2 separate regions of the Homo sapiens genome follow, and region 2 is linked to region 1. The links come from fine-mapping of genetic effects on gene expression. A gene starts in region 1. The other region holds a variant in brackets. All regions are shown on one strand. Distances are between the middles of the regions.

The links.
Region 2: its variant is fine-mapped to the expression of P2RY2 in whole blood (TOPMed, PIP above 0.99).

The regions. Positions count from the first base shown.
Region 1 is chr11:73,214,940-73,226,970 of GRCh38, reverse strand. It overlaps P2RY2 (purinergic receptor P2Y2), which reads right to left and starts at 8,690. Exons shown (of 3, transcript NM_002564.4): 1 at 8,539-8,690. LOC124902709 (a long non-coding RNA gene) reads left to right here and starts at 8,778. Exons shown (of 3, transcript XR_007062773.1): 1 at 8,778-8,944; 2 at 10,932-11,128; 3 at 11,783-12,031. RefSeq lists enhancers at 7,419-8,137, 8,138-8,856 and a silencer at 8,570-8,779.
Region 2 is chr11:73,186,126-73,199,244 of GRCh38, reverse strand. No RefSeq gene overlaps it. Among named protein-coding and RNA genes, the nearest start is that of IUR1, 9.8 kb to the right of the region's middle. RefSeq lists an enhancer at 287-581. The variant G/T (reference allele first, on the strand shown) is at 9,458.

The DNA of each region.
Region 1 (12,031 bases):
ACATGTAACCCAGAACTTAAAGTATATATATATAGAAAAAAAAGAAATCTCCTGTGTCAAACCCTGTTTCACAGAGGAGGAAACTGAGGCCCAAGCCTCACAGTAAGTCAGGGACAGAGCCAAGACTAGAGCCCAGCCCTCCCGAATTCTGGCCGTGGTTTTTGTCTCACCTTGGAGCCCCTTGTGCACACCAAGCACAGGGTTTCAGGGAGGGGACAGTTGCCTGGTGGAGGGGACCTTCTGTGTGGGCAGGTCCCACCCTCCACCAGCACCTCAGGTACCTCACAGGAGAAATAGAACATGCACCTCCTGAGTTTTTCTTTTTCCATCTTCATTTGCCTAGGATGGAGGAGTGGGCCTGCGACAGCTGAGCCCAGGTTCCCAAGCTGGAAGTGCAGTACAAGGCTGGGGGGATGTGGGAGAGGAGATGGGGGCACTGCAGGAATAGCTTGGGTACGGGGGGCGTGGGTGCACACGGGAAATGCCTCTGGGCCACTGCTTACTGAGTGCACCTTGCCTGGTGGTCTCAGATTGACAAGGCCGGTGGGCTGGTAGCTCCCCACTGATCTACTCTAGAGACTATGACAAGGTGAGGGATGGTCAGCCTTTTCACCCTGCTGCACCCAGGTGCACACCCTGTCTCCTCCTCCTTAGAAAATGCCTTGACTCAACAGGCTAAAATGGAGAATATCACTTTCCACAAGTGGTTCTCATTTCTGAGAAGGGCCCCCACCATCCTTCCAGGTTTCAAACCTCTGATACAGCCTGGACAACCTCCCTCTTCCCCACCCTGCTGGAAGCCCACCACTCACCAAGCCCTGTTAGTCCAACCAGTGAAATTCCTCGGACATGCACTACGCGGTCCCCACACTGCAGCCCGAGGCCTGTGCTTCCACAGTCCACAGCAGCAGCCTCCTCACTGGCCTCCGTGCCTCCACCCCTGCCCCGTCTGTCCACCTTTCACACTGCAGTCATGTAGTTTCCTGAAACACGAATCCTACCATACATTGTTGAGCCATGTTTGTGGCTCCCTAGTGCCCTCAGGCAACTGTCCCAGCTCCTCAGCCTGGCACTCAGGCCCTGGCTGATCTGGTACCCACCATCCCTCCAGAAAGCCCATCCTCTCTGTCCCTGCCCTCATCTTCCTGTCTCAGGCACAACAAAAGCAGTCCCATGGTCATATCATTGCTCAGAGACGGCCTCCCTTATCATCTAACACCTATATCACAACAAGAGTTTAGTGCTGTCCCTGTGCCAAGTTCTGTGTTAGGTGGCTTCATATACCTCCTCTCGTTGAATCCTGAATTAGCAAACGGCATAGCCACTCTGGGCTGTCTGATTTCAGAGGCTGTGCCCCTGACCACTACCTCCTGCCCTGCAAGGCCCCGGCCCTCTCCCAGGAAGCTGCCTGACCATCCCTTTTTGGCCCCACAGCTCTCTGCCTGTCTGCTCAGTTCTCTGCCAGAGGAATGCCAATTGGCAGGGCTCAGGATTTACTCTTTTCAGATGGGTGGTTATTGCACCCATCTCACAGGTAGAAAAACTAAGGCCAGAAAGGGGTAGCTCAAGGTCTCACCCAAGGTCACCAGTGAGCCAAGGGCAGAGCCAAGCCTAGCATGCAGACCTGTAACCCCCTGACCTGGCTCTGCCCCTACCCCAGTCTGGGCCTTTCTCTTTGTGGTTCTAGGCTAGTGAGGCCAAAGTCAGGAGGAGGAGCTGGGCAGCTCCCAGGCCACTGCAGAATTTCCAGGGTGGTTGGATGACATTCCAGCCCCTCCACTAGAGTGGCTCTGGAATGTGCCTCCCTGGCTGGTGGCAGACCCTGTCTAGCCTGGTAGGGGAGAATGTGCTGTCACCACTGTGGAGACCCCTGCTGCCTATCTCTGCCAGGAGTTGGGTGCTGTGAGGGAAAACAGAGGACCTAGTGCCAGAACCTCATTGAGGGGGCAAGAGAGGCACTAGGCAGGTGGGAAATCCGAGTTCTCCTCTTTCCAGTGGTAAGACAAGTCTCTTAACTCCAAAACCCAGATCTCAATTTCCTCTCAATATCAGAACAGTACCTGCCTCAGAAGGTTGTTGAGCTAGTTAGATGATTTAGGCTTATTTTATGAAATAGTAAGAGAGAATATTTCAGCAGGTAAAGAAGGCATGGAGGGTGGGGTTATCTCAGGAAGACAAGAAGGGCAGGAAGCTTCGCAGGAATTATGGGAAGGGGATACAGGAAGGTCACAACCAGAAAAACCACAGATCAGGTCTCCCACACTGAAGGCCATCCTCAGGGGGAAGGCAGTCCAGGGATTCCCCAGCAGAAGCCAGATAGCCACCATACTCTTTCACTCGCTCACCCTTCACAAAGGTTGCCACATCTATGCCCACTGCTGGGCAGGGCACCTGGGGACTCTGAGGTAGGTCAGATCTCAAGGAATTCACTGTCAACGTCAGGGGAGGCACACTCAGAAACAGGCGATGATAACACAGGGTGATCAGGCCTGGAGGAAGCCAAGGAGGCCCCTAACAGGATTGGAGGGGTGATGAGGGAAGGCTTCCTGGAGGAGAGAGCGCCTGACCTGCATTTTGGAAGACGAGGAGTCAGGTGGTTGGAGAGAGAAGAGGAGCAGAGTGAGGATGAACAAGAGATGACATGACACGTTTGAGGAACTGCTCATCATCCTGGTGGCTTGAGGGGAGTGGAGAGGGCAAGGCTAGAGTGCACAGGCTGAGGAGCTTAGAAGTCACGCTGGCTCCTCCCCAATGTCCTTCAAGGGGCTGAAAGCCAGCAGGCCCCCTGCCTTGCCTGACATGCTTCTGCACCGGGAGCACCAGGGCCGGTCTGAGGAAATGGCTAAGGGGTAACCTCAGATGCTATCAGCCGGTGCTGTTGTGGTGTTAGGCACCCCCTTCAGGAGGCCCTTGGGCTCTCTACCCCCTCCCAGATGTTCTCTCCCTCTTTGGGACCCCCCTAGGATCCTGGCTGTGGAGGCCACTCACCAAGGCTGAGCTCAGAGCAGCATCAGAGTGGGTAAGTCTCAGATCAACCAGGCTTACAGATCAGAAAGCCAAGACCTCTAAAGAGGAAGGGCCTTACTCAAGGTCTAGTGTTCCAATTATTGTCAGTGTGGGTTTGACCACCTCACCCCCAACATAGAGCAGGACCCCAAACCACCCATCTCACCTGGAACCCAGCATAGCCCAGAACAGGGCTACAGAGACATGCTACTAAATTAAACAGGCTCAGAACCACAACGTCCTGGACACCACCCCAACCTATCACAGCCAAATGCCTCCAGCTTCAAGAGGCAAGAACCGTGAGTTCAGGCTCTAACTTGGAGCCACCTGTGCTGTGCAGTCTTGGTGAAGTCAGCCCCCCTTCTCAGAGCCTCGGGTTCTTCAGTGGTCAGATGGGGAGAATCACTGCTGCATGGGACAGCTCATGAGGAATAAGACAAGGGGGCAGGTGGGTGCACCTTGGCGCTAGCAAATCATGAACTGTCCTAATGTGGAGGCTGTGTCTGCCTGTCACAACAGGGAGACACTGAAATTCAGGAGCCCATGACACTGCTTGGTAGGGAGGCCCTCCCAGGTGTTCCCCAGCAGAGGGACAGAGGTCATGGTCAGAGCAGTCAGGCAAGGTCCCTGGAAGGGGAACTGTGATAAGATTTGAGGAGGAGCAGGAAGGGTCCAGCTTGGGAGGAAAGAAGGTGGATGGAGAATCCAAGGTGGAAAGGGGGATGAAAGCATCAACCAGGAACCACATGAGCCTCTGATTCTGAGATGGCCCCTCCAGGTACCTCCAGGATTCTGAGTTCCCTGGTTCTCGCAGTCTAATTCCAAGAGGCTCTGGTTCCGGGTGTGAAGGCTGTGTTTCTTCAATTCTATTACTCGTTGCTCCTGATAGCCTTTGGTTTTGAGATTCTCAGAGCCACAGGGGTCTGGATTCAGAGTAATGAAATCTTAAATCACATTCCCAGGAACCACAAAGTCCCAGCAAACACTTGCCAATGCTCTGGTGCACCTGGCCTCAGATGGACCTTGTGAACTCAGACTCAGATTGCACTCTGCTGGGCCCTTGAGGAGTACCCAGTCAGGCTGAGGAAAAAGACACAGACATGGACCAAATCCACTTGGGTGAATAAACCATAACCAAGGCAAGCCCAGGGGTTATGGAGCACACAGCAACTCCTACCTGGCCTGGGGGAGGTGGTCAGGGAGTGCTTCTGCAGAGGAGGGGTCATCTGAGCTGGAAACTGGTAGATGATTAGGAGTTTGTCAGGTGGGCAAAGAGGGAGGAGGGCTCTGAAGGCAGGAGAGGCATGAGCAAAGACTTGGTGGATGAAAGTGTGACCTGCTGGAAAAAGGCTGGGAGGTCTTATACGGCTACTGTGGAGGGTGAGGTGGCATGGAATGTGTGGGAGCCTGAGGAATTCACTTGAAAAGGCTCAAATGCCAGGCTGAAAAGCTTGGCCTCTATTCTAAGGACACTGAGGAGCCATGGAAGGCTTAAGAGGGGAAGGACATGGTCAGAGTCAACCTTTACAAAGATGGTGCCACATGGAAGGTAGATGGGACAGGGAGTCTGGAGGGAGGGAGACCAAGGAGGAGACGACACATACGGTGGTGCCATGAGAGGAGCAGGTCCCTTGGCCCTGGATTTCCTGCAACAGCCCAGCCATGGCAAGAGTCCCCCTCCTACAAGCCAGGGCTGGGTGGCTGGGCACTCACCAGGAAGCCAGGTCGACACCCAGAGGCTCTCCTCAGACCTGGGGAGGGAGAGGCCACATAAAGCCCCAGAAGTCTGAGGGAGGTCCCTTTCCCTCACTCCAGCACCCAGGCCTCTCATTCAGGAGCTACAATGACAGTGACAAGGTACCAGGGCAGAGGGTCAAGGAGTTGTTCCACGGGGCCCAGGCTGCTCACCCTCCTACCAGAAACTCCCGCTACTCATCTTGGACCAGGAAAGACTCAGGCCTAGGAGATGGGGTGATGGGGTGGAGGAACTCCTCTGCTCCAGAACCAACTATGGCACTCCGTGGAGCAAAGCCTCCCCTTCTACTCCATGCCTACTCCCGCCTGGCCACTCATTTCCCAAAGACCCACTGGCAGCTGCTCTGAGCCCAACCTGTGGTGGCTGATGGGGACAGAGAGAGAAAGCAGGTATGGCCTAGCCTAGTCCTGCAACTGGCCGCTGGATGAGTACAGAGGTCAGAGTGGCCCACACAGCCAGCCTCCTCCTATCAGGGCCCAGTAATAAGGGAAGGCCAGGCCTCAGGACCCAAGGACAACCAAGAGGAGGTGTGGCCCAGAGGGTATAGCAAGCAGGCCTACAGAAAGCAGTTTGGGGAGAGGCGGTTTGGGTGGAAGGCATGAGGGGCAACCCCCACTCCCCTCACCAGATCAACAAGGCATCTCTGGTCCCGTGGGCAGGTCTGGGCAGGCGTTACCTTATCAGCAGTTGGGTAATCTGGCCACAAGAAAGCCCCAAACACAGGTTCCCAGGGCAGAATTCAAACTCCCCTCAGCCTGGAAGCCAGAGGACCAGGCCTAACCCTAACAGGGCTCTGTCTCAGATGGGGAGGGCTAAGCTGGCAGGTGGACTGGAGCCCCAGGTTTCACCTCAGCTTGGTGACCCTGGGCAGGATACAATCCATGCCTCTATTTCCTGATCTGCAAAATGGAGATACAATTCCTCCCTCACAGGGCTATAGGAAGACAAAATGGATTGTTGTAAATCGTTACTAGTGAAGCCATCTCTGCAGAGGGGGTGGGGGAGGAAGGCATTCAGTAATCAAATTTCAATAACAAGCACAATCCCTTGCTATTGCACCCATGTTCTCTTATAGTCTTCAAAATGGATTTAAGTCTACAAGTGTCACATTCCTCCTCTGAGCACTGCAGTTTAAGGCTTATAAAGCTCTTCCCTGGTCACTATCTTAATCCTCGTAGCAACTCTGCTCTCAAAGAAGCAAGGATCACCATTCTCAATTTACAAATGGCAGAACTGACACCTAGAGAGGGACAATGGCCTCTCTAAAGACTATAGCCATTAAGTCAAAGCTCTCATGGGGTCACTCATGAGGCCCTGGTGATACCCTCACACCTTCTTAGCTGGTCCTTGGGGGATCCACAGCCTTAGAGCCCCATGCATCCAGGGCAGGAGGGAGACAGAAACAGAGGAGTCACAGCCTCACTCCACAGCCCAAGCTTGGTAGTCATTTCTGAGGGTTGCCCACTGGGATCCCCAACCCCTCTGACCAGACTCCAAGACAGCCCAAGGCAGGGAGAAGAGGAGAAAGAGCGACAAGCCTTTTGTGCCAGAGCCTCCCCACACACATACTCTCCCATGCAGGATCTTACTTGTTCTGGCCTCCTTTTAGAGCCTGGCAGGGCAGGAACTGGTCATTCAACCAGCTGGGAACAGAGCTGGGATGAGATCAATTGCAGGTCCCCAAATTCCTCAGCAGGAGCATCTGAAGGCTCAGGGAAAAGTGTTTGGCCAAGGGGCAAGGGCTCAATTAGGGTTCAAACAACTCCTGGGACAGTTCTAGTGTTGACATCACAAATGCCCTGACCTCCCTGCACTTGGCAATACTTGATCCATTCTCCATCCTGCAGCCAGAGAGCGCTTTCTGAAATGCCGCTCTGACCATGAAACACCTCTGCTCATAAATTTCCATGGCTCCCTATTGCCTTCAGGATAAAATCTCTAGGTCTTTAGCCTGGGCACTCTAGGTCCTACAGTGTCCCAGATCACACTGTTCTGGCAAACTGTGCCACCCACTTTGATAACCAGATTCTGGTTTGCCCTTCTTTGTAGTGACATGGAGCTCCCCTGCAGCCGGGCCTTTACTGGAGAAGCTGGTGCCAGAGACAGGGGATGGGCGCCACTGCTGCTCTCTCAGTTCAGCTCAGCCCTGTGCAGGGTGCTGGCAACACAGAAATAATAAGACCCAGTTTCTGCCCTCCAGGAGCCCCTAGACCTGGGAAGAGGAAAGGAGGAGACAGACATAGATCATGACGGTTCAGGTGGGACCAGGGCTGTCAGCCCCAGGCCTGTAGGGGCCTAGAAGAGGCTCCAACCCAGCTGTAGGGATCAAGGAAGGCTTTCCAGAGGAGAGGACATCTGAGCTGGGTCCCAAGTCTGGGTAGTTCTCCAGTTGAGGAAGGTGAGAGTAGGAGGGCTTATCAGAGAGGGAGTGTAGAATATGCAACAGGCCAGGGGCAAGAAATGAGAGACTCCAGGCAGCTGCTGCAAGGTAAAGAGTCAGGCGGGAGAGGTGGCTGGAAAGGCTGGCAGGCCCCAGTTATCAAATACCTTAAGTCCCAGGCTACAGGGTTCAGGCTTGGTCCTGTGGAAGGCTTGTGCCCTAGGGAGGGGCACAGTTGGGATTCTGGTTCTGGGAGGCTCCTTCCAGGGACTGACTTCCCATCCCCAAGCTGTGAGCCTGCCCATGGGGGGACACTGGTGCTGAACATGACACACTCATCAGCTCCTCAACAGCCCTCAAATTCCTTATCATTAGTCCCTTCTTACAGACGAGGCCACTGAGGCTCAGAGAAAGGACGGCTTGCCCAGGCCACACAGTGGCCAAGACAGGATTGGAACATAGATCTCTGAGTCTCCAGAGCTCTCTTGTGGACCTGTCTGCTCAGAGAATCTTCTTCCTTCCACTTCCACCCACAGGTAATAAACTTGCCTGGGTCTCCACCCAGATCCTCAAAACTCATAATTATTTCAGCTTAGATCCAAAACAAACCAGGCAGATCAGGCTGTGGTCCTGGGAAGCTGGGGATGCCATGCTGAGAGGAACAGCAGCCATGGACCCCACAAATCCCGAGCTGGCAATTCTGGTCTCCAGCAGTCCCCAACCCTTGGGCTGCGCTCCTGGAGGACCCCAAGAGGGCCACTGGCAGCCTTCGGGTTGGGGGGTGGGGTATCGCCTTTCTCCTGACTGACCCTTTCTACCGCACCATTTGCCAGATTAAAAGCCCGGGGACAGAGGCTTAACTGTCCTTTCTGGCCACTCCCTCCTCCCCCGCCCACTCCCTGCAACTGCCCCCTCAACATTACCAATGGTAGGTGGCCACCCAGAGTGACCCTGGGGTTAGGACAGTGGTAGGGGGTCTCCAGGGGTTCGCGTCTCTGGGCACCGGCCACCGCCTCACGCCACGGGGACGCTCACATCGGAGCACACACAGACAAGTTCCGCAGGCTTGGCCAGTCGCCCCGAGGGGCGCACACACTCACCCGCTAACACGCAGACCTCCCCAGTACGCTGACGCGCACAGCCTCACTACTGGGGCGCCCGTCCACACTCACCGAGACCGACGCTCCCGTGGAGACAAAGTTCAACCACGGACCCACAGGCGCGTTCAAGCCGTCCAGTTATGCGCTACACGCCGGCTCGCAACTGTGCCCCGGGGCGACAGCCGCTCCACAGCGCCCTCCCCTGCCCCGCGCCCAGTCCGCACCTGCGCCAGTCTGGCCCGCCGCTTCCCCGGGCCTCTCCCAGCGCCTTGTTCCCTCCAGACGCCCCACCCCACCTCTCGCCACTGCGCTGCGCTTCTCCTCTCAGGGTGCCGTCGCCGCCGCTCCCGGGTGCCAGTGCCCGGGTCCCGCCGCAGCCGCAGAGACCCACGTGCCTGGGAGCCCGGCTACCCACCTCCCTGCGCTGTTCCCCAACCCCGAAGCCGGGCCAGGCAGGGGGCGGGGCGGACTTTTGACTGACCCTGGCACCGCCCTCAACCCGCCCGGGTAGACACCGCGCCACCCGCTCCGGGACGCCGCCCAGCGACAAGGCCGCGGGGTCAGCGTGTCTGTACCGGTGCTGCAACGGGAGGGTCGGGCGGCGACGCTCTCACTGCCGGGCCAGAAGGAGGCCTCCCGGCTCCCTCACGCTAGAAGGGAGCTGGTTACCAGAGGTTTTCAGAGACGCCAAAGTTTTGCCAGGTCAGCCCGGTGCCTGCGTGGCCCACTGCGGGACCTTTGCGCCCAGCCACCGCGCCACCCTACCCCTGTCCCGCCCCTGCCCCAGCCCGGCTGGCCAGGAAGGGACCTACTGGGAGATACCTGCTCGGAACCCCAGGCTAAGGACGTACCTCCCTTGCTTGAAAGTGGGGGAAGGGGGTGCCTCTCTCCATTACCGTGGTTAGGAAAGCAGGGTACTCAGGATCCCGCCTCTCCCGTGCTCCCCACTTTCCCTGCCTTAATCTTATCAGCAGCTCCCTGAACTCCCCACTCTGGCCCCTTATCTTGAGCTGCTTTACCTCTCTTCTCTGTCGTCAACCCCACTCTAATGGCCTTCCCTGGTCGGGCTACCGGCTGCATGTCTGACCCGTTCGGAGACTGTGAGCTCCCGAGGGCAGGAACCAGGTCTGCCTTCTTCCTGCTGCTGTCCTAGAGGTCCTGGGAGGTGCTCAATCCTTGAAGGTGTGAATGGATGAATGAATGAGCACCCCGCCTCTCTCTCATTTCTGGTCTAGGAATCAGGAGTGTAGGTTCCTGTCTGGCTTCAGCACTGACTCTGGGAGACCTTGACCCAGTTCCATTCCCTGGCAGGGTCTTCTTTCCTGTGAAATGGAGCCAATCGCTCCGCTGGCTGGACAAGTGCAGAGGAGGCCTCTTCCTGTAGCCAAGGAACTTGCCCCGGGCCTTCGGGGCCTTGGGCCCTCTTGGGCTCCATATCAGCTGACTGGGCCTGGCTGCCAGGAAGGGTGCTGGCTGCAGCCCCACCAGGAGCAGTAGCAGAGTGGACACACAGCCCATAGTGGCTGAGCCGCCTCTGCAGTCCTGCTGGGGCCTTTGCTTGGGAGACACAAAGGCCCCTTGTCTAGCCTCCTGCGCCTATTGTCTAAGCTGGGCCACGCACCTTCCAGGGACCTAAGTATCCTCATAGCCCGAGTTATAGGGCCTAGGCCTTCAGGTTCCAGTGTGGGGAAGACCCTTTGGGCACTGGAACTCCAGCCAACCCTCTCTTTCTCTCCCCTCTTCCAAAACTTCAAACCTTATACTGTCACTGCCATTTAGCCCAGGAGAAACAAGTTTCTTTGACGCCAAGTTGAGGACCCAGGCTCGACCTTAGCCTTCAGCGGGCAAATCTGGTTGGTGGCCTGCCCAGGGCTCTGCCCCTGCTCTGGCCCAATTCCCTTACTTTACAGCTGAGGAAACTGCATTCCTGAGACATACAGCGTTTCAGCTACCACACAGGTGACTTAGTGAGGCTTGAGGAGCAGAGGAAGGGGCCTAGTCCTTGAACCCCATAGCCTTGGGTTTAGATTCCAGTCTTACCTCACCTGTCCTATGACTCCTCTCTGAGCCTGAGTTTCCTCTTTTGCAAAAGGGAGTAATACTAATCTCTCACTTGCTGGCCTGTCTTAAATTTTTTGAGAAAGGGCCTCACTCTGTCACCCAGGCCGTAGTGCAGTGGCATGATCACAGCACACTACAGTCTCTATGTCCCAGGGCCAAGGGATCCTCCCATCTCAGCCTCCCAAGTAGCTGGGAATACAGGCACATGCCACCATGCCGGGCTAATTTGTAAATTTTTTGTAGAGATGGGATCTCCCTGTGTTGACCAGGCTGGTCTCAAACTGCTGAGTCCAAGCAGTCCTCCTGCCTCGGCCTCCCAAAGTGCTGGGATTCCAGGCATGAGCCCCTGCACCCTATCCTTAAATTCTTTTTTCATGGTTTTATTCATCATCCCAAGCTGTCTGGGCTCAAGGCGTTAGTATCCCATGCAATGAGGGCCTAGAAGTTTCGTCTCCTGACATCCTCCCCAGGCAGTCCCATCGCTGGGTTTCAGAGGCCATCAAGCCCAGCAGGCTTCAAATCCCCCAACAGAGTCCCCCTTACCTGGGGCTGCCTGGGGAACTCCCATCCCACTTCAACTTGAGCACCTTTGCCTTTGTATTTTTATTTATTTACATTTCCTGGTAAGAATTTGTTGCAAGCACATGAAAGATTTTGTGGCTGAAGTAATGTAAAACCATTGATCAAACCGGAAATTGAGACACAGCCAGCGTCACACAACAGGCCATCTGAAAGGCTGGAATAGCATCGAGGGAGTCTCCCTGGAACCAAGCAGCCAAGGCAGGCTAATGGTGAAGGCCCAGGCACAGTAATGGTCCCCTGGAGGTGGGTAATGGAACCATGGGGGCGGGAGGAGGGTTCCATTAGCAGTAGCAGATCAGGAGGGGAAGGGCAAAGTTCCAGCCTCAGCTTCTCCCATGTATTAGGAGGCTTCCTGTCTCTCCAGCCCTGAGGAGGTATTTGGCTCATTCAGGCCTTTTCATCCTCCTTCTCTCAACTTCTCTCATTGCCCCTGGGAAAACTTGCTCTGAAAATGCATGCTGGGGATGAAGCCTCTGCCCTGGCCCAGGCTCCAATCCCCCCTTCCCAGGGTACAGTGGTGTCTCTGTTGCCCCTTGATGCCATACCCTGCCTTACACTCTCTGGTGGCTCCACCATCCTCTGGATAAAGCCTAGCTCTCTAGCCTGCCACTCCAGCCTCCCTGCCTCTCTGCCTCACCTCTCACCTCTGACCAGCCTCCTGTTGCCTCTTGCTGCTCCCTCTGCCCACAGTGCCCCCTGCTTCTGGCTCCCCACCATGGGTCCTCGAAGACCCAGGCCAGGTGCCCCACCACTTACCATGCTGTTATTGCTATCACTGCCTGTCTCCCCCTCTAACAGGGATCTCTCTGAGAGCAGAGCCAGGTTCCATTCTGTTCACAATTAAATGGCCAACACCTAGCACTGTCCCTGAATAATTTTTCTTTTTTTTTCTTTGAGATGGAGTCCTGCTCTGTCATCCATGCTGGAGTGCAGTGGCGTGATCTCAGCTCACTGCAACCTCCGCCTCCTGGGTTCAAGTGATTCTCCTGCCTCAGCCTCCCAAGTAGCTGGGATTACAAGTGTGCACCATCACACCCTGCTGATTTTTGTATTTTTAGTAGAGACAGGGTTTCACCATGTTGGCCAGGCTGTTCTTGAACTCCTGGCCTAAAGCGATCCACCCGCCTTGGCCTCCCAAAGTCCTGG
Region 2 (13,119 bases), 28 kb after region 1:
TGTGAATGTACTAAATGCCACTGAGACATACACTTTAAAATGGTTAATTGTATATTATGTGAATTTCACCTCAATAAAAAATGATTTGCAAAAGAAAATAAATTCAGTTATACATTCAACCGACAACCTTGTGCTGGGTATTGAGAACATGGAAATGAATCAGACCTGGTTCCTGCCAGTGCTGGTAGAGCCCATAGCCTTAGATGCTGAGATGGGGCAGTTGAACCCAGAACTTGAACATTGCCCTCTGAAATTTACCTATCGGGTGGGTTCTCTCATGGGTTCCCACCATACAGACTGCCAGGGGGTACTGCCCCTTCCATCTCAGTGATTGGAATGCATCCTTTGAGTAACTTCGCCATGGAGAAGTCTGACAATCACTCCCTCTGTCATGTGATCAAGCCTGTTATCAATGGTGATGAGTCATGCTGATGGAATGTTCCCTTGATATAATGCAATGAGAGTGGCACTTCACCTCTGTGACCTTCCTCGCAAGAACTCAACCAAGTCTAATCATGAGAAAACCAACAGCAAAGCCCAAATTAACAGTCTGCACAATACCTGATGATGAATACTCAAAACTCTCAAGATCATCAAAAACCAGGAGAGTCTGAGCAACTCTCTCAGACCAGGAAGAAAGGATGGAGGCATGATGTTTAAGTGTAACGTGGCACCTTGGATGGAATCCTGGGACAGAAAAAGGACATTAGGTAAAAACGAAGGAAATGTAAATAAAGTATGGATTTTAGTTAATAATAATTTACTAATACTGGTTCATTTGCCGTGGCCAATATAAGACGTTAGCAGTAGAGGAAAGTGGGTGAGGATATACGAGAATCCTCTGTACCATCTTTGCAACTTTTCTGTGCATCAAAAACTATTCTTTTAAGAAGTTTGTCTACTTGTTCTAAAATTTTATTTTAAATTATTATCCTTAAAAATTGCTTCCTTAAAATGGCTGTAACAGGCTGTTCAGATAGAGGTGACAATGGGGACATGAATGGGGTGGAGTGTGACCTACTAAACAGTTTGTTGTGTAAGGTATCATTTGTTCTCCAGGTGCTAACTGACTCCAGAGTGAAACATAGGGCCTTGCCTGATCTCCACCCTCCCCTTCTAGTTCCTGACCTGCCTCTTTTTGATAGGCCCCTGACTTGGGGACATCCTTATAGACACCAATATCTTCAATATCTTCAAAAGTGCAGACTATGAGAGTCAGGGTCTGGCCGGGCACGGTGGCTCGTGCCTGTAATCCCAGCACTTTGGGAGGCCGAGATAGTGGATCACCTGAATTCAGGAGTTCGACACCAGCCTGGCCAACATGATGAAACCGCATCTCTACTAAAAATACAAAAATTAGCCGCATGTGGTGGTGTGTGCCTATAATCCCAGCTACCCAGGAGGCTGAGGCAGGAGAATCACTGGAACTTGGGAGGCAGAGGTTGCATTGAGCCAAGAATTGCCACTGCACTCCAGCCTGGGTGACAGAGTGAGACTCTGTCTCAAAAAAAAAAAAAGAGTCCGGGTCTCTCTTCTGTAGCCATAAGATCCTACAGCAGTTCTGCTTCCCAGGCCCTGGATCACACATCTTCCCCAGGGCACTTACACCAGGAAGAACTTTAGATGAGCCATTTCACTGCCTTCCCACAGGGGTGCGGCCTCATGGCCCCATGGTTATGTTCTAAGTCAACAGTAGAATGACATCTTAATCCAGCATAATATCCACTGATGCTCCCGCCCACTAGCCAGGGGCCATTTCCTCCTCTGCTGAGTAGAGAAGGTTGGTACATAAGGGCATCACAGACACCATCAATTTGCTCAGAAGGGCATCACCATGGCTTCGACTGGCAGGATAGTGGTTAAGAGGAATGATTTGGAATAGACAACCCTACATTCAAATCCTGATTCTATCACTTATTCGTTTATTTAAACCCTATGACCCTCAGTTTCCACAACTGTAAAATACAGGTAATAAGGTTCTGGACTATTGAAGGTATTGGTAATCCGGAATGTCACTGGCAGAGGGTCTAAAAGTCTCTCCTCTGTGGTTTCCATCGTTTACCTTTTGAAAGTTGAATCTCCAGGCCAGTGCAGTGTCTCACGCCTGCAATCCCAACACTTTGGGAGGCCGAGGTAGGCAGATCACTTGAGATCAGGAGTTCGAGACCAGCCTGGCCAACATCGTGAAACCCTGTCTCTACTAAAAATACAAAAATTAGCTGGGCGTGGTGGTGCACACCTGTAATCCCAGCTACTTGGGAGGCTGAGGCAGGAGAATTGCTTGAACCCGGGAGGTGGAGGTTGCAGTGAGCCGAGATTGTGCCACTGCATTGCAGCCTGGGCAACAGAGTGAGACTCTGCCTCAAAAAAAAAAAAAAAAGAAAGAAAGTTGAATTTCCAGTCTCCTGGTGTTTGTGTTCTCTCTGAGTCCTCGAAACTCTCCGACAGTGGTTCTGTGAGCACAGTAGTGGGCTCCGCTGTGGCTAGGGGTGCAATTCAGCTCAAAACTCCTCTGGAGCAGCTGGGGGAAGGCCAGGAGGGTCTGATACTTGCCCATCCTGACATTTTCACCCCTAACCCTCTGTCAGTGACATTCCCTGTCATGTCATTTACCTGAAGGTTTGTGAACCTCTGGCAAGTTGCGGGGAGAAAGTAAGCAGGAGAAAGAAGCAGGGGTTCACTGGCTCACCAGCCTCCCTTCTGTTCTAACAGTGACCAACAGTGGAAAGAGGACGAAGGCTGTCAATGCCATTTTGGGGAATCATATTTGAATGATTACCTTGTGCTAGGAACCTTGAGCCTCCCTTTCCCGAGCCCTTGGCTCCCAGGTCAAGTGGGAGAACTCTTATAATTCTTTTGTGTCTCTGAATCTTGTCTCCATAATCAAACTAGAAATTACCCATAGGACATATTTCCTTCTCTTCTTGACTCTCTTTATCAAATGTGACCTACAAACCTACTGTAAATATCCCCAGAGAGATATATCATTCCCTGGGTAAGGAAAACTATCGTTGCCATTGTCAGTGGTGAGACTCCATAATCACTATCAAGAATCACTACCTTTACCACATCATCAACCATCATAGCAAATTCTGCTCTCCTCAAAGTGCCTTTAATGATAGTTGTAATTTATTGAACACCTAGTATGTGTCAGATACTGAAACAAGGGCTTTCCATGTATAATCTCAATAGAATTATCTAAAGTCCGTGTTCTTAATAAACAACGCTGTTCCAGCCCTGGTCCAGGAGTGTAAAACCCTCCTACCTTTTGCTGGGAGCGTTTGCATGTGCTGTTGTTGCTGTGTTTTTGCCACTGTGAACACTGCACATGGACAGGCCCTAGAAGACCATCCCAGGGTGTGTGGGAGCCCCTGGGGTAGGGGGACAGACCTGGGAACCTGAGCTGGGCACCAAGCATGCCAAAGGTCTCAGCTCTGCCCATGAACTAAGGGCTGGCAATGACCTTGGAACCAGAAGCTGGCATAACCAGAAAATCAGTGAAACTCCACTAGAAGACAGGGACTTTAAACAGGGCTTCAGGCTCCTGTCAAAACTCTTGGATGGAGCTGATAAGAAGTCCACAGCCTGCAGGGAAATGGCACCTGCTCCCAAAGCCACAAGTCCATTAGTGATACAGAAGCCAGCAAAGAAAGAGAGAACTGGCTGGATCTTGAAGCCAGCAGGGGGAGAGGAAAGGATGACAATGGATTTGCCTATGGCCAGACTTGACTCAGACAGTTACTGGTGAGGAGACTGTCACAGAGGAGCACTCAAGGTCTTGTGCATGCCTGTACCCAGCACTCCTTTATATTTTACAGGGCTGTCATCAGGTGACTCATCACTGAAACCGCCCCATGTCTATCCCAGTGCAAACCTGCCCGGAATCAGGCACATACCTACAGAGGCCAGGGAGGTCCAGGAGGTCTAAGACATGAGCCAATGTGACATGAGCTCCTGGAGCCCTCCAGTGTGCCAAACATTAGCCCTTTCATTGAAGGACTGTGAGGAGGCCCAGGCAGTACACCAAGGGGCAGCCAGGGTGCTGGAGCACTTGGAGGTCTCAGGGCTGCTACAGCTGTGCCATTGTGTACTGACTGCACATCAGCTCCAATTATACCCTGGCATCCAGCACTGTGCCTGGCACATAGTAGGTGCTTATTGGGCACACAAATGAGAGGGTGAAAGGTCCCTGCCCTAGAGGCATTCACAGTCTAGCAGGGGAGACATGGCACACTGCAAACCCGTGAAGAATCTTCCCCAGTGGTAGCCTTGGATTTTGGCCATTGGATACCTTGAGGTAGCGAAGTATGTCCAGGACCAGGTGGAGGGTGGTGCGTGGGGGGTGGTGTGAGCGCAGGCTGCAGGGGAATGCTGCGTGCATGCATGCACAGGGCTCAGCTGTCCCAGGAGTGCTAGGGAACTGCATGACTCAGGACAGGGCGGCAGGCTGAAGGAAGGGTGGGACGACCCAGGATAGTGCCAGTGAACCCATGGGGAACCAGTCTCAAACCTGCCTTCCTGCTTCCCTTCCTCCGTCCACAGTTTACTGCTCCGGGCAAAGTCTGCTGCAGTTCACAGAGAAGCAACAGCTTTGATGGCATCTGCAACCTAAGTCATAAAGATCAAAGTGGGATAAAGCTGGAGTGAGTTTCTGAGTTCCAAAAATAAGTAACATCTCAGAGGTTACTTTAAAAAATAGAGGCAGCTCAGTGCAACAGAAGGAGCTTGAGCCTCAGCATTAGACAAATCTGAGTTAAAATCCTGGCTTAGCCACTGTAGCACCTACACTTCCCAAGCCTCAGTTTCTTCTTTAATCTGGGCACTGGAGATGGTGTCTGTAGGGGGGCCTGGCTCATTTAGCCAGGGCTTAGTGAAGGGTAGGTAGGCATGGCCCTGTCACAGTCATTGCGGGGTCCCCGACCACAGCTGTGAAGGGGTCTGGACAAGCAGATGCTAAACGCCACTGGGACCTGCATACAGGGAGAAAGTCACTCATCTCTTCTAATACTGGAAAGAGATTGTGACTACCTACTAAAATTGCCCCAAGCAACATTCTATGCAGAGGAGAAAGAACAATGTGGTGTGACTAGTCCTTCCAGCCTCAGTGGGACAGCCACACAGTATTTCCCATCTATCAGCTCTCTATCAATTCATCTCCTGTGTCAGGTTATTGGCCAGGGCAAGAGGGAATGAGAGGAGAGGAAGATCCAGTCCCTGACCCCTGGAAATGCAGACTCTTGCAGGGCCAGATTCTCATGAGCAATGGCATGCCATGATGCCAAGCCTCACCAGGTCCAGGCCACGGCCGGAGGTGCCGAGTTCAGGCTGTTTGCATGGTGACCTCTCAGACTTAGTCAGCGTCCCCACCATCCCCAGCTTTAGTTGCATCATTGCACTCTCACTTATGCCACTAATATTCACTGAAGCCTGCTCTGTGGTAGGGCCCGAGTACAACAGAACGTGTCCTCTGCCTGCATAAAGCCTCAGTGACATGGACCAGTTGGTCCCAGTGAAAGGGCGATTCATTCTCTCCTGTTTTGTGATTGTGTGTCTGCCTCCCCACCAGACCGTGTGCTCCATGGAGCAGGGGCTGTGCCTGTCCCGATCACTGTCGGCTCCACTGTCCTAATCACTGCCCAGAGTCTGCTCCAAAGCCTCCTCCAGAGAGGGTGCTCCATTGATTGAACAGCTCCATGAGGAGGAGGGTGACTGACAGCACTCTGGGAACCCAGAGGAGGAAGTCACAACGCTAAAGGATAGCCAAGAAAGGGCTCCTGGCAGAGGCTGTGGGTAAAGTTTGCATAGGATGGAAAGAGGCAGGGCTGGAACAAGCAAGGGTATGGCAGTAGGAATGAGGTTGAGCTTTGCAGGAGTTCTGGGGAAGAGAGGTGGCGAGGTTAGCTGAGTGCAGGCCAGGAAGAGTTCCGGTGCTGCCTCTTGGGGTCTTGGGGTCTCTCTGCCTCTCTACATAGCTCTTAGTTTCCCCTAACCCCAGGGTTCTCACTCCCTCATCCCCCTACCTTCCAACAAATCAAGAAGTTCATGGATAAGGGACCCTGAGGGCAGCAAGGGAGGTGGTGAGAGCTCCAGTTGTCTGAGTCTAAGACCTTCCTCTGATGAAGTCCCAGCTCCAATTACCTTTCCCACCTAGCATGGCCGGAGAAAGTACAAGACGCCCAGTCAAATTTGAATTTCTGATAAACAGTGAAAAATTCTTTAACATAACGGATATTTGGGACATGTGCTTATACTAAAAAGTTATTCATTGCTAATCTGAAATTCAAATTTAACAACATATCCTGTATTGACATTTGCTAAACCTTGCAAACCCTCCCTTGACCCCCGCTTTTCAGCATCTGTCATTCACCCCTGCCCTGAGCCCCCAGGAACCATCAGAGGTTGTGGGCCTCCTGCAACATACTCAACGAAACAGAAATTCAGAGCTGCTAGGAACACTGAAGCTTATCTAGCCCCATTGCTCCCCACTATAAGTGGACTAGGAGGCCGAGGCCCAGAGGAAGCAGGCACTGGCAGGTCCTTGGGCACCTCTCAACAACTTGACTGGAACTTGGGCCTTCATGACAGCAGGAGGACCCTTGGCTGGGGGCTTCTTAGGAAAGGCCAGGGCCCTCCTATTCATCATTCTGGGGCAAGGCAAGGCAGGGAGTCTCCAGGTTTCTGCCCTGACCCTGGGCTGTGGTTTCCTGGATCTTGACACCCCCAAGTGAGTCACCTCCACCTCCCAGGCTACATCTGACTCAGTGCCAAGGCCCTGGGGCTCCTCAGCTCTTACCTGGCTCCCAGGTTGGAGGAGCCAAGTGGGCAGGTTGGGGTGGCTCTTGGGCAGGACTTTGTGGGAGGGACTAGACCTTGTGAGAGGCTCATTTCCCCACAGTCCTCCTCAGGCCCTGGTAATGGTCCAGTCAAGGGCAGCCCTCAGAAACTCCCAATGGTGCGGCTGGGTGCAGTGGCTCACACCTGTAATCCCAGCACCTTGGGAGGCAGAAGCGGGCAGATCACTTGGGGTCAGGAGTTCAAGACGAGCCTGGCCAACATGGTGAAACCCCGTCTCTACTAAAAATACAAAAGTTATCTGGGTGTGGTGACGGGAGCCTGTAATCCCAGCTACTTGGGAGGCTGAGGCAGGAGAATTGCTTGAACTCGGGAGGTGGAGGTTGCAGTGAGCCAAGTTCGCACCACTGCACTTTAGCCTGGGTGACAGAGTGAGACTCTGTCTCAAAAAAAAAAAAAAAAAAAAAAAAAATAGGAACTCCCAGTGGTGCAGCTAGAGCTGAGGAGAAGGTGGAGTGCCTGGTGGCAGGCGGGGTGGGGGTACATGGGTCGGGGGTAGGGACATAGATTTAATTAAAATCACTCAGCCCATCAGGCCTGCAGGGGTCTTCTGTCAAGTGGCCATTCCCCGCTCCCCACTGAAGGTGCCCATCCCTCTGGGCTCTGTTTCTTCCTCTCATCTTTCCATTGTTATGTTATGTATTAGTTTGCTTATTGTCAATGTCTAGTTAGAACATAAATCCTGTTCACTGTTTCAAGATCATAAAACAGTACCTGGCTCAACAAGCTTTGTGGAAATTGCCCTTACTGCATTTCACCTTGTGTGGAACATGGCCCCTGATGCCACAGTCCCCCACCCACCCATGAGCATCTCAGCATCTGCCAGGAGACTGGCTGTGTGCAGAGCTTTGTGTTCCCCCGGTCCAGGTTCCAGTTCCCTCCTCTGATTACAGCCCAGCCTGGGTCCTGGGACTGAGAAAGTAAAAGCACAGGGTTGGGGCAGACTGACAGACAGTGGGTTTAGGGTGCTGCTCAGGGTGGGGCTCTCATCTGCCTGCCCCAGTGCTTCCACCCGAACCACACAAGCCCACAGCACCTAGACGTGGCCCAGGAGCTCAATCCCAGGCCCACACGGAGCTGACCCCTCCCAGCCAGTCGGGCTGAGGGTACAGCACTGAGCCAGAAGCTGATGACCTGTCTGCCTTGACTTGTGACCTGCCAGATCCCTAGGCCTTGCCGGGCCTGGCTCTGTCTGTCTGTACAATGATGGTTCTGGGCTGACTGGTCTCTGAGGCTTGCCAGCTCAGCCCACCCATGGCTTTTTCCTACCCCTTATCTACCTCTAAACCTCTGTGCCAGCCACTCCTGCATTACCCTGGGGGTACTCCTGAGCCAAGGATCTTAGACCCTCCCCTTCACCCTAGTCAGACCCTTTGCTGACCCTTCTCTGGGACCCAAGTCCTGGTCCTATCTGTCTTGGGGACCATAGGCAGTTGGTGCCAAAGACTGTCCCCAGGATACTTGGGATACTTTAAAGTCATCCAGTAAAATGTCATTCAGGGAAAATCTGTCCACATTTACCTGGCTCCAGCCCTCTAATCAATCCTCCTTTGGGACGCCTGCTCCCCTGACATGTCCAAAGCTGATGAACTCTTTATCTTTCCCCAGACCTGCTCTTCCTGTCACAACCTCAGCAAGAGCATCACCAACCAGCCGGTCACCTGGGCCAGGAACCCAGAAGCCACCAAGCCTCCTCTCATTTTCTGCCTGCCCTCCTCCCATCCTTAACTAAATCCTGGCCACCCCTCTGTGCTATCCTGGGGACTGTCCACCTCTCACCTTCCGCTGAACTGCCCAACTTCATCCTTCATCTTTTCCTCCTGAACCTCAAAAGCAGAGGGCCCTTTGACACTGCTGTCTGCCTTCAGTCCATGCTTCATGCAGCAACCAGAGAGGGACCCTGCTGGCCACACACCCAGCCTTGTCACTCCCCTGCTCAAAACCCTTCCATGGTTCCCACTGCCCTCTGGATAAGGTCTGGCTCCTTGGCCTGGCATTCGAGGCCCTCCAGGCTCTGGACCCTGCCAGCCTTATCAGCTCATCTCATGTGGCTGTTCGACTTGCAGCCAAGTATCCTCCAGCTCTCAGCTGTGGCTCACGATGTTCCCTCCACCTAGGAGGCCTCTATTCTTCCACATCTTTAGGTTCCTCCATCCTGAATCATCTGGAGAGTCCGCTCTGGGAATTGACTCCTTATTTAGGGAGGCTGGATAAACAAGGCTTTTCTCAGGCTGCATGTGTGTTTTTAGACTCAGTCAACATTTATCTATTTATTCAGGTACTCAGCCTTTCAAAAAGGATTTGAGGTGGGCTATTCAATATTGATTGTGGGCTACCATGTGCAGCAAAGTCCAGTGTGCACACACACACTCATTCACACACAAGGCCGGGGCACCATGAGAACCAGGAACCAGGCAGAAGCTTGCAAAGGCCTCATGGGGCCAGTGTGAGGATGAGGCACCTGGATTCAGAGGGAGGCCCACCTGGCTCAGGGTAACACAGACAGATATGGGGTTGAGGGTTCAAATCTGAGGTTTTCTGAGCCCAGTTCACAGGGCTGCCCCTGGAGGACTGAAGCCCAGCCCTGTCTTTAGAAAGTTCCTTG[G/T]TTATATGTAGAGAGGGGGCTCTGGAAAATTAAACAAAGCCCACCAGACAGCTCACCTCCCCACAGGGTGCTCAGTGTCCCATCTTATTTAGCCCCCTAGGGTCAGGGAGGAAGCAGGAGCTGGAGATGAGGGGAGGATTTGGAAAGACAGAAGGTAGTAACAGAGGCAGCAAAGGCTGCAGGTGGGGGAAGGAGACCCATAGCTTCCCTCCGTGGCCCCTGCTTGCATTTCCCTTCCCTTTCGCCCACGTCAGCTTCAAGATCTGTTCCTCTTTTCTTCTGCAACATTACTGGCTGGGGGCAGGCTGGGGCGAAGACTGTGGTAGCTGCTCAACCTCTAGGTTCTCATGGGAGAGAACCTAGGCCCCAGCCGAGTGGCGGCCCTGTGGGCACTGCAGACTCCAGAGTTCCCAGCACGCTTTCCGGCCCTTTTCTCCTCCTCTGTACCCCCAGCTAGTCTGTGAGCAGGTATCACCACACCCTTTCCGAGGGGAGGAAACCAAGGACCAGAGCGTTGGTGACAGAGGAAGGACTCCATCCCTTTGTTCTCAGAAGCTAAAATCCTCCCTCTAGAAAGTATCCCAGGTGTGGCTGGGCACGGTGGCTCACACCTGTAATCCCAGCACTTTGGGAGGCTGAGGCGGGCAGATCACCTGAGGTCAGACCAGCCTGGCCAACATGGCGAAAACCCATCTCTACCAAAAATACAAAATTACAAAATTAATAAAAATACAAAATTAGCCAGTTGTGATGGTGGGTGCCTGTAATCCCAGCTACTTGGGAGGCTGAGGCAGGGAGAATTGCTTGAACCTGGAAGGCGGAGATTGCAGTGAACCGAAATTGTGCCATTGCACTCCAGCCTCGGTGACAAAGCGAGACTCATCTCAAAAAACAGAAAGTATCCCAGGTGTCATCTGCTCCTAATCTCTGACAGCCTTGCACAGTAACTGAGTTCAGAAATATGTGTTGGGTTGGCATCAGAGAGGGCCGCTGAGAAGGGGCCTCACCTGTCTGCATCCTCCAGGCATGGAGGCACCAATACTCAGTCTTGATCTCCATGGGCTGTTCTAAATCCTGGGCTCCTCTGCGGTTTCACATACAGGGCATGGGACGTGGAGGTCAGCTCAGTGGGACTCTCCAGGCAGTGGGGAGGGCGGACAGGGGACAAAGATTCTAGTTTCATCTTTTGCAGCCAAAGGTGGGGCTGGCCTGGCCCACTCCTAGGTGACCCTAACTGACCCCAACAGTGAGTGGCTGGGAACTGACCCAGGCTGAGCTGAGGCAGCTGTCAAAGCAGCCCTAAAATTAGCCCCAACAGGGATAGGGAGGGGGGATCTGGCCCAGGCTTCAGGCTCCCATGGCCCCAAGGGACTGAGCCCACACCCCACTCAAGATGGAAGAGGTCAGCCAGAGTTTTGGCAGTGACCTACCCGGAGGCTGGGAGGGGAGATTCACAAGCTAGGATGAACATGGTTCAGAAGGGGGATCGATGGGCAGGAGGCACCCCCTGCTAGTTTCTTGGATCCTATGTGGCTCCCAGCCCCAAGCCCTTCAGAGCCCTGAGAGGAACCAAGGAGAGACTTCACTATTTTTGTTCTCCTAGAACAGGATTGAGGGGGCCAGCCTGTCCTTCCAAGGCTGAACTGGATAACCTCACACCTTAGCATCAACTCCCAAGAGCAGAGGAGGAGCCAGGAGGTGTGTTAGCCTGATTGATAGAGGTGTGGATTGGAGACACCTGGGACAGGCCCAAAGTCAGCCTCATCCTGCCCAGGCATGCAGCTCCACCCACTTTCCTCTGCTCTGCCTTAGTGCTCTGAGAATCTTATTTAAAATGCAGATCCTGGCTGAGTGTGGTACCTCATGCCTATAATCCGAGCACTTTGGGATGCCAAGGAGGGAGAATCACTTGAGGCCAGGACTTTGAGATCAGTCCTGGTAACATAACAAGACCCCACCCCATCTCTACAAAAAACTTTTTAAAAAATTAGCTGGATGTGGCGTCATGTGCCTATAGTCCCAGCTACTTGGGAGGCTGAGGCAGAAGCATTGCTTGATCCTGGGAGTTCAAGGCTGCAGTGTGCTATTGAGTATGATTGTACTACTGCACTGGAGCCTGTCGCTGACAGAGCGAGACCCCATCTCTAAAAACAAAACAAAACAAAATCGGGGCGGGGCGCAGTGGCTCACACCTGTAATCCCAGCACTTTGGGAAGCCGATGTGGGTGGATCACGAGGTCAGGAGATCAAGACCATCCTGGCTAACACGGTGAAACCCCATCTCTACTAAAAAAAAAAAAAAATAGCCAGGCGTGGTGGTGGGTGCCTATTGTCCTAGGAGACAGGAGAATGGCATGAACCTGGGAGGCAGAACTTGCAGTGAGCTGAGATTGCGCCACTGCACTCACTCCAGCCTGGGCGACAGAGCAAGACTCTGTTTCAAAAAAAAAAAAAAAAAAACAAACCAAAACAGATCATGATTCAGAAGAAGATCTGGGGTCAGGTATGAGATTCTTCAAGATTCTAACAAGGTCCCAGATTGGCCCGCAGATCACACTTTGAGCACAAAACTCATTTCCCGGGCAGCTTGGGTGGACCCCAAGGCCAGGGCCCCGTCTTCTCCTATACACAGGTATCCCTACCACAGGTAACCCCAACTCCCATCTTCAGTAGAGCCTGGCATGAGCATATGGGCACCCAGTATACTAGGTGGCTGGCTGGTTTATTGTGGGTTCCTGCATGGGCAGTAGGTGTGTGTGGTAATCCCCGGGCCTCTGTGTCTACTGCATGTCTCTTGTTACATGTGTAAAAAGTGTACAAAGATGCACATATACAATAATGATGAAATAAAAATAGCTAAAGTTTAAAAAGTAGATAATCTTTATTGAGCACTATGCCCAGGGAAGGTACTAGAAATGTTACACTCAGTATCTTATTTAATTCTCATAACAACCCCTGTGAGATGAGAAAACCGAGGCTCAGAGAGGTTAAGTGACTTGCTCAAGGTCACACAGCTGATAAGCAGCAGTAAGGACTGGAATATGCATGTGCACCCGTGCACCCAGTGCGCCCATCTTGGTGCATGTGAGCTTGTGGGCATGTGTGCTGTTGAGTGGGCACAGGTGATGCAGGAGGTGAGCAGCCGCAAGGATGGGGTGGGCGGGGTAAGAGCCATGCACAATGATTCAGAGTGTGAGCTTTCCGCAGGTAGGGAGACAGGAGACCCAGGTGGAGGGAGATGCAGGCAGGAGCCAGCAAGTCTGGGCTTGAGTCTTCATACTGCAGGGCCAGCTTTGACTTCCTCCTTTGTGAAATTAGTGTGATAATATTTGCCTCACAAGGCTCTGCTGTGAGAAAGAAACGCAATAATAACGCAAAGTGTGCCACGCGGGCCTGCCTGGCACACAGCAGGCACTCAAGATGTGTGAGCTGGCCCTTCCTTCCCCTAGGGACTGAACTGCTTGGGAGTGACTTGTGCCCTGACTGGTAGCAGCCAGCTCACTGGATTAAAGGAGGCATCCTGGGGAGGGCTGGGGACAAGTGGTGAAAAGGCATGGAGCGTGGAGTGGGTTGCAGCTGAGGGAGCACCCAGGGAGGGACGGACATTTGAACAGAGCTCAGAGACTGGCCCACCACCTTTCCCTTGGCAGAGACAGGAGAAG